Homo sapiens: one gene and its partner. The protein of the gene in region 2 interacts with the protein of the main gene of each other region in a biochemical or structural test. Each region holds a gene or a part of one and is shown on either strand. Other genes may lie near its edges. The genes, in order: KAT2B and TAL1.

Region 1 (3,550 bases), on a different chromosome or scaffold from region 2:
GGTAATACTTTGGCCATCATATGCCTTTTTTTTTTTTTTTTAACTTCTCAGTTGGTTTAGATTTCAGTAGGGAAGAGGGGTTCTCTTGGTTGGGTCCTCTCAAACCCCAAAAGGATATAGTATTCTTTCCTACAGACATCATTTTGAATCACATTAGAAGCTCATATGGGAGATGTTTAAAAATCGGCTGTATTTTTCTCTCATCATATATATTTCACAGATGCAAAGTATAAAAACAAAAATCTTTTAATTTCTAAACCAACAACACTCTTCTTTCAATGAATCTTTTTTGTTATTGTTTAGCGGGTGAGTGGGTAAGATGCAGTGGATAACTCAAAAGACAGAGTAAGTGTCTCTCCTGAAAATCTCTTACTGATGACCTATGGATTTTTTATGAAACCTCCCCCAAATGCAACAGAATGCTTAAGATCTAAGGTTTAAGGATTCAATTGATGGTTATCAACCAGATCATAATTTGTTCTGTTAACCTCAGCCTACTGAATGAATAAAACACACCACAAGATTGGAAGCTTTTTAAAATATAATTTAAAACTATTTTGTACCAGTACAATATATTAATTTTACAAATGTAAAATTTTTATCAGCTGTTAAAGCATTTGCAAAAACCACACATTCTACTTCAGCTTTATTGCACAATATCTATAAGAAAATATTAATTTTTAAATTAGAAAACATAAAAATGCTTTCAATATAGAAGAGACAATCTGATTTTAAAGACAATACTCTATAAGAATGTCTACTCAGAAAATAACAAACTTTCACAGGATACCAGCTGGACAGATGCTTCAGCAGATCCGGTACAAAGCACTGTTTAAAACCAGTCCAAGATACTTAATCCAAACTGTATCATGATTCTTCATTAGAAATCTAGACACCACTCATGGTGGTTTCTTACACTTTAAAAAGTTGAGGCATTTTCAGTGTGAGCATTCTGAATATCTCTTACATATCAAAAACAATACTTCCAACTCAATAGCCATTTGCAGGGTTCTTTTTCCTTCATGCAGATTATCACTGGCAACTGTTTTTAATGACTATTCATGACCATTTTATTTATGCTGATAGAAAACATCAAGTTAAATACGCTTTTAAAACTTTGTCCTTTACAAAAATCAGTGTATAAATTTGCATCATAAAAATTAGTGTTGAGACCATCAAGATGGCCTTCATTTATATGGTTGTATATTAGTTGGTTTTCCCAGAGTTGGGAATGGCAGATGTCTCACTTTTCTATGTAGTGTAATCAGGAAATAAATCCAAGCACTAAACTGGAATCCCAAGACAGATTAATAAGGTTGCATGATGGATTTTAGGGGGTTATGACCCTGGACGCATATACTAATGTGGGTGTTAAAATACTGACAGCAAACCCTGGTGGGAATTTAATTTACCTCAGACAATAAACATTATCTGGAGAGACATAAAGGAAAATGTTCATTTGCATATTATCAGCGTGGCTGTGTGTATCATAGAAAAGAAAAAGAACCTTTATTAGAACGAGGATTCACCAGATTGATACATATATAGACCATACATCTTTTCCTATTAAAGCATGTTGATTCAATCTCATGTGTTTTCAAGTTTATGCCTTTGTGGGCAGGGAAATTATCTTTTGGAACTTATGGCCTGCATAAGCAAAGTCAAATATGATATTACACATTTGTGTAGAGAAAATAATTATTAAAATAGTGGTTATGTACTAACAAGTTTGTTGTAAGTAGACAGAATTATCAAAAACCTAGATGCTTATTTTAAAAGTTTGCATTATTTAGAATTTCTTCCTTAGGAACCAAAGCAGTTGCTTTCCTGGAACTGCATTTTTCAGAACTGCTCAAAGCACCTCATCTAGATGAGTGTTTTAAAAAATATATATAAAAAGTCTATAAAGAGACTTCAAACATCACATATTTCACCTCTTACAGGCTTTTTTAAAATCATGTATCCCTTCCTTAAAGTCCTTCAGAATAAAATAAAAGTAAACTCTCACATTCCATTAGAAAAAAATGGAAACATTCATTCATGGTCTGAAAATGTTATGGATTTCCCCAAATTTTGCTACTGTGTGCAATTTCCTCACACACAGGTTTTGAGGAAACCCCTAATCATCTATCATGAAATAGCTAATGGACATGCCATAGAAAATTTACCTTAATAGTAGTAAATAGATTAAAATCTATTCCATAAAATAAAAATGTCCTATGACTTCAATTTAAATACATATCTGAAAAGCTAAAAGGAGGTTTTTTGTTTTTTCAAAAGTGCTAATTATTACATTTACAAGTCTCTTCAATACATCATGTCCAATTCTTTGTAAAAAACTAAACCACCTTGCTTTAGGCACACTGCTTGGTGAGTTTCTAAGAAGCAGAGGGGAAAAAAAATCACTTGTCAATTAATCCAGCTTCCTTAATTTTACTGAAGAAGAATTTCTCCAGGATATTGGCACATTTGTAGTATTCACTCTCAGGGGGGTTGTACTCTTTGCAATTGGTAAAGACTCGCTGTAAGTCTGCCATGAATAATTTCTTAGACACGTAGTACCTATTCTTGAGGCGTTCACTCATGGTTTTCAGATCTGCACAGGAAAAAAAAATATTAGCAATCTTTGACTCCCTTTAAACACCAGCTGACAAAACTGGGACTGGGAAAGGAATCTATGTTGTTGGTTTGATTACATTTTTATCATCCCAATGCTTTTATTTAAGAGAAATTCTTATGACCAAGGAAAACAGTTCTTAAATCTTAAGTTCATTCTTTTGTGGGTTTTTTAAAAATGTAAAATCACAGCCATTTTAGCATTAAAGGGACCATTATTAGTCATCTGGTTCAATCCCCTATTCAGCACAAGGAAGCTAAGTAGATTAGCAACAATAAGTATGATGAACTGACTACTGTTAGCTATTCAGTCAGAATTATACAGAAGAGGCTCTATCTATATGGAGTAGAGCAGGTGGAACGTTTGTATTCAATCATTTAATTACTTAAAACAATCAGACTGCATTTGTTTCACTAAACTCACAGTTGTTTTGGTGTCATATAGAGAAACTGATAATAAATACATCTGTGAACACACCAGTGCCCTTGCATGTAAAATGATTCAAATGAATTTGCTTCAAGCTCCATCAATGAAATAAGAATAACAAACTTCATTTAATAATCTATTTTCTAAAGCAAGTAAGCCTTGTGAGACTATTGCAAAGAATATTTCCCAATATAGCTACTTGCTTTAAATTGTAGTATTTTACAGGTGAAAACAGTACTCCATCTAAACTGATAAAACTAAAGTAGGGTTTCTTCAATCCTCACTGTCAGGACTAATTTAAGGAATTCTATGCAGATTAGAATAGACGCTAACATTTGTCTATTTATGGTTCCCTGGTTGTCTTGAAGTCTGGCTTTATTGTTAAAAGCTATAATTGTATTAACTATGTGTGGAAAAATAAGTCAAATGGGAAAAAAAAAACCCCACTTCTGACTACCAATATCCCAAATTATAAGTATGTTATAAAATTTCCAGGGGGAAAGAAAC
Region 2 (3,820 bases):
CGCGGCGCCGCCCCCACCGGCAGGGCCGCCCCCCGGGCCTCCGCGCGCGCCCAGTTCGATGACTGGGGGCTCCGCTGCGGCCGCGCGGCTCGTCTCCTTGGCGACGCCGTTCAGCAGGACCAGGTGCGGGGGGGCCATGCTGGCCTCGGCCGCGTCCCGTCCCTCTAGCTGGGGGTCACTGCGAGCCGCCTCGCTCGGCGGCCGCTCGGTCATCCTGTGGGCAGACAGACAGACAAGCGGATGCCCGCTCTGACGACCGCCCCTGACCCACCGACGTGGGCTGGGGTAAAGGGGAGAAGGGCAGAGAGAGGAACTCACGCACCGAGACGTGAGAAGAGGCAGACAAAGTTAGCGCCACGTGGGGCTAGGGCGGGAGGCCGGTTGGGGCTAGGGTGGGAGGGAAAGAGGGTCTCTGGATTGGGAGAAGGGAGGGGTGCCTGGGAGACACAGAGACTGAGGGCCAAAAGGACAGAGATGGAGGAAGACGACAGAGACACCGGAAGAAAAGGAATACAGCCAGCGACAGAAACACAGAAGGGGAAATCAGGAGGAAGGAAATGTACAAGGAGGCAAGAAAGAGATTACTCTGTCCCCTTTCTCAGGCCTAAAGGGAAGAGGAGGGAACAAATTCCGGATCGTGCTCTTTGGTTTTAGCGGGGAATCTGTCAGGCAGGGGTTCGTTGCTTTAGGAACCTCCCTTGGCCTCTCAGCAATATTCCCAGCCCACCTACAGGCACACACCCAGAAACCCGGTGCGGATGGAAGTAGGGAATTAGAAAGTGGAGGCTACGGGGACTGGGATCCACTCCGCCAGAGCTGGCAGAGAATAATCCCGAGGAACCAGCTCCCTCCACACACACACACACACACATTCGCCCCCGCTGGGGAGTGAGGGAGTGTCTGTCTACACTGAGCAAATCCACTGTGAGTCCTCTGCCCGCCCAGCGGATCTTTACTCCCACTCAGACAGAGATGAGAGGTCGCCAAGGGAAGAAGATGGTGCTGGCCCAACCTCCCTGCACAGTCCACCTCGTTCTGCTCAGCTGGACTCTGAAGTGAGGTCGAGTCTCAAAGAGAGGCCTGGCTGAGGTAGAATGGAGCTGGGCATTTGAAGGGTTCCCTGAGGCCAGTGGGGTCTGGACTCCCATCCAAGAGCAGGACAGGATGTCATGAGGCCCTTGAACTCTTCCAGCCCCCCTCACCGCCATCTCCTGCCTTGGTGTTCTTTGGGAAATGGGAGGAATACCTCCTTTATGCATTTGAAAGTGCTGTGCAAACGTTCAAGTAAACATTATTAACAAGGAGAATGGGCCAGTGAGAAAACTGCCTGGCCGAATGTCAAGTCACTCACAGCCTATCTGTGAGAGAGCCAGACCAGAGCAATAATCTCACTTTGCTCAACCCTCCTGTATTCCCAGAGCAGTGAAACCACCTTGTGACCCCACAAGCATACTCCGAGATGACCACAGCCACTCTACTTCCCACAGGTGTGCTGGGGCTCTTCCATCACCTGGCTTCATCCAGATAGAGCTGGGCACCAGCAAGAACCAAAACAGAAAAATCAGGAGACTCAAGGGCCAGAGTTTGTGAGTTGTGAGTTGTACATATATGATCAACACCACATAAGTTGTTTAAAATAAGCTTTCTGCTCTCTGAATTATATAATTGGGTATTTAAAAGAAGAAAACAAATACAAAAAAACAATTTACCCCCATGCAGAGTCCATCTAAATCATACATAGCAGCCATTGAGCTCCCATACTGCCACTGCAATGCTCTGGACAGGAGTCATCCTAGGAACCATCCCTCCCACCCCAGAAGGGAGAATGGATCATCTGCAGCCTCCTCTGGAGCTTGGCTCAATTGCCACTAGACACCCAGGATGACAGAGAGTCAAGATTCAGACTGCTGTACACCTTCTTTGGGAATGCCAGCCCCCCAGGTCTGGCACAGAAACCACAAAATTCCCTAAGTCCTGGTGTATACAAGCTGTAAAGGCAGTAGGTCCCTGACACTTCATTGGAAGTGAGTTTATGATTTTGGTGGAGACAATAGGTCTCTATCCATAGAATGCAACCACCAAGACACCAAGGCCACTGGAAATGCACCAGAAGTATATCAGCCAGGTCCTCTTGCTCCCAGCAGCAGCGAAATGTGCCAGAAATATACCAACCCCTGGGAAACATACAAGCTTCAAGGTATTGGTTCCCTACCTCACTGCTCTCCGTCCTGACACACCGGTGTGAGCCCAGTGATCCATGCTTAAGCCCCAGCTTCTAACCGAGTGACAGTGTGCACTGCAGTTGCAGACTGAGCTCAAGCTCTGTTATGACACATTTTTACCCTCCAATTAATTCTTAGGCTCCTGCTCTAGCGGTGGATTCCTGAGAGGCAATGGGAGTACATATTCCAGATGAATTGACCCTGGCCACAAATGTCCTCTCCAGACACCTATAAATATCCCATCGCCAAGGTTCCTTGTAAGAAATATATGATTGGATCCCAGGATCTGTGGAGGACCTCTCCCGGCTCCTCCCCACATTTTAGGAAAATCCTGCCGGTTTAGGATTACCAGCCAGAGGTCCATGCCCCAAAGAAGCCACTCACAAACACTGATGGTTGTTGGCGACTAAGCTGCATCACTTGATTTGGATTACAGAAAGGAACGCCCGAGAGATTTTGTTTGTTTTTATTTGGGGAGAATGAAGGAGGAGGGAGATTTTAGACTGAATCGTTCTAGAGTATTTGACGACTACAGCTCCTCTCTCTTTGTACTACGGAGACCCTGCTTATAGCCCCCAACAGGAAATCCTCATCTGCAGTTGCCAGACAGCCAGAATATTTCCACCTGTGCCAGAACAAGACAGAAGACCCCAGGAGATTCTTCCTGGGGACAGGTCTCAAGCAGACCCAATCCCCCATACAGAGAATTTCTTAGATGAAAACAGCCTCAGGCCCTTAGACCCAGCCTCTGGTCTCTCTTCTGGGCCCACACCAGCACAACACCCTGGAGAAGCCCCAAGCCTGCACAAGTACCAAACCCACCAGGGAACAGCACCACCATCCTCGCCTCTACCGGAGAAGAGGGGTGTTCCTGCCTCCCCACCCTAGGCCTCAGGCCTGGGATCAGGGCCCACTCGAGCTGGGACTGCACTAGCCAGGAAGGCTGCCGCCTTCCTCCTGCGGGAGCTCCAGGCACAGTCTGTACCACCCGGATACAGCCGCCCCAAAGTTACCGGCCTTGGGAAACGTCCACAGAACCGGGACCAATGGGAAAGGCCTGGACGACTAAGTCCAACTAGCTGGTTTTACCCTGGGTGGAAAAGGGAAAAAGCCGCTGAATGCCACAGAGGCAGCTACAGCAGTCAGATCCCGATTCCAAGCTCTGGCTGGTCCTCCCCTCCCCCCACCCCCAATCTGAGAATGGGCTCTCCTCTGTCCTGAGCCTTCCTCACCCCAGGCCGGAACACAAGGCCTTCCTAGACACCGTTTCCACCGGCACCATTCCCCTGAAAACTCACCTGGGGCATATTTAGAGAGACCGGCCCCTCTGAATAGGATCTCCACTCCGCCGGAAAGGGGCGGAAGCCGAGGAAGAGGATGCACACCCGGGTCTTTGCTTTCCCCCTTTTTCGCTGAGAGGCCTGCAGTTACGCTGCGGTGTGGTCCTGGGCGATCTGCCGCGCCCAAAGCGAGTTTCCAGGAAAGATAGGGGTGGAGAGAAAGAGGCAGGGCAAGAGGGAGGGAGAGAGAGAAATGGGGGTCAATGGCTGGGAATTACCTCCTGTCCCCGACCAACCAGTCCAGGGAATCGCAAACAG

Evidence for each region.
Region 1: the proteins of TAL1 (region 2) and KAT2B form a complex in vitro, tested with the Homo sapiens proteins (one study listed by BioGRID).

What each region holds. Positions count from the first base shown.
Region 1 is NC_000003.12:20,151,378-20,154,927, reverse strand, and holds the end of KAT2B (histone acetyltransferase KAT2B), read right to left. Parts: intron 2,597-3,550; coding exon 2,403-2,596; 3' UTR 524-2,402; downstream 1-523. UniProt on the Homo sapiens protein: Functions as a histone acetyltransferase (HAT) to promote transcriptional activation. Has significant histone acetyltransferase activity with core histones (H3 and H4), and also with nucleosome core particles.
Region 2 is NC_000001.11:47,225,676-47,229,495, forward strand, and holds part of TAL1 (T-cell acute lymphocytic leukemia protein 1), read right to left. Parts: intron 3,677-3,820; 5' UTR 3,521-3,676; intron 215-3,520; 5' UTR 214-214; coding exon 1-213. UniProt on the Homo sapiens protein: Implicated in the genesis of hemopoietic malignancies. It may play an important role in hemopoietic differentiation. Serves as a positive regulator of erythroid differentiation.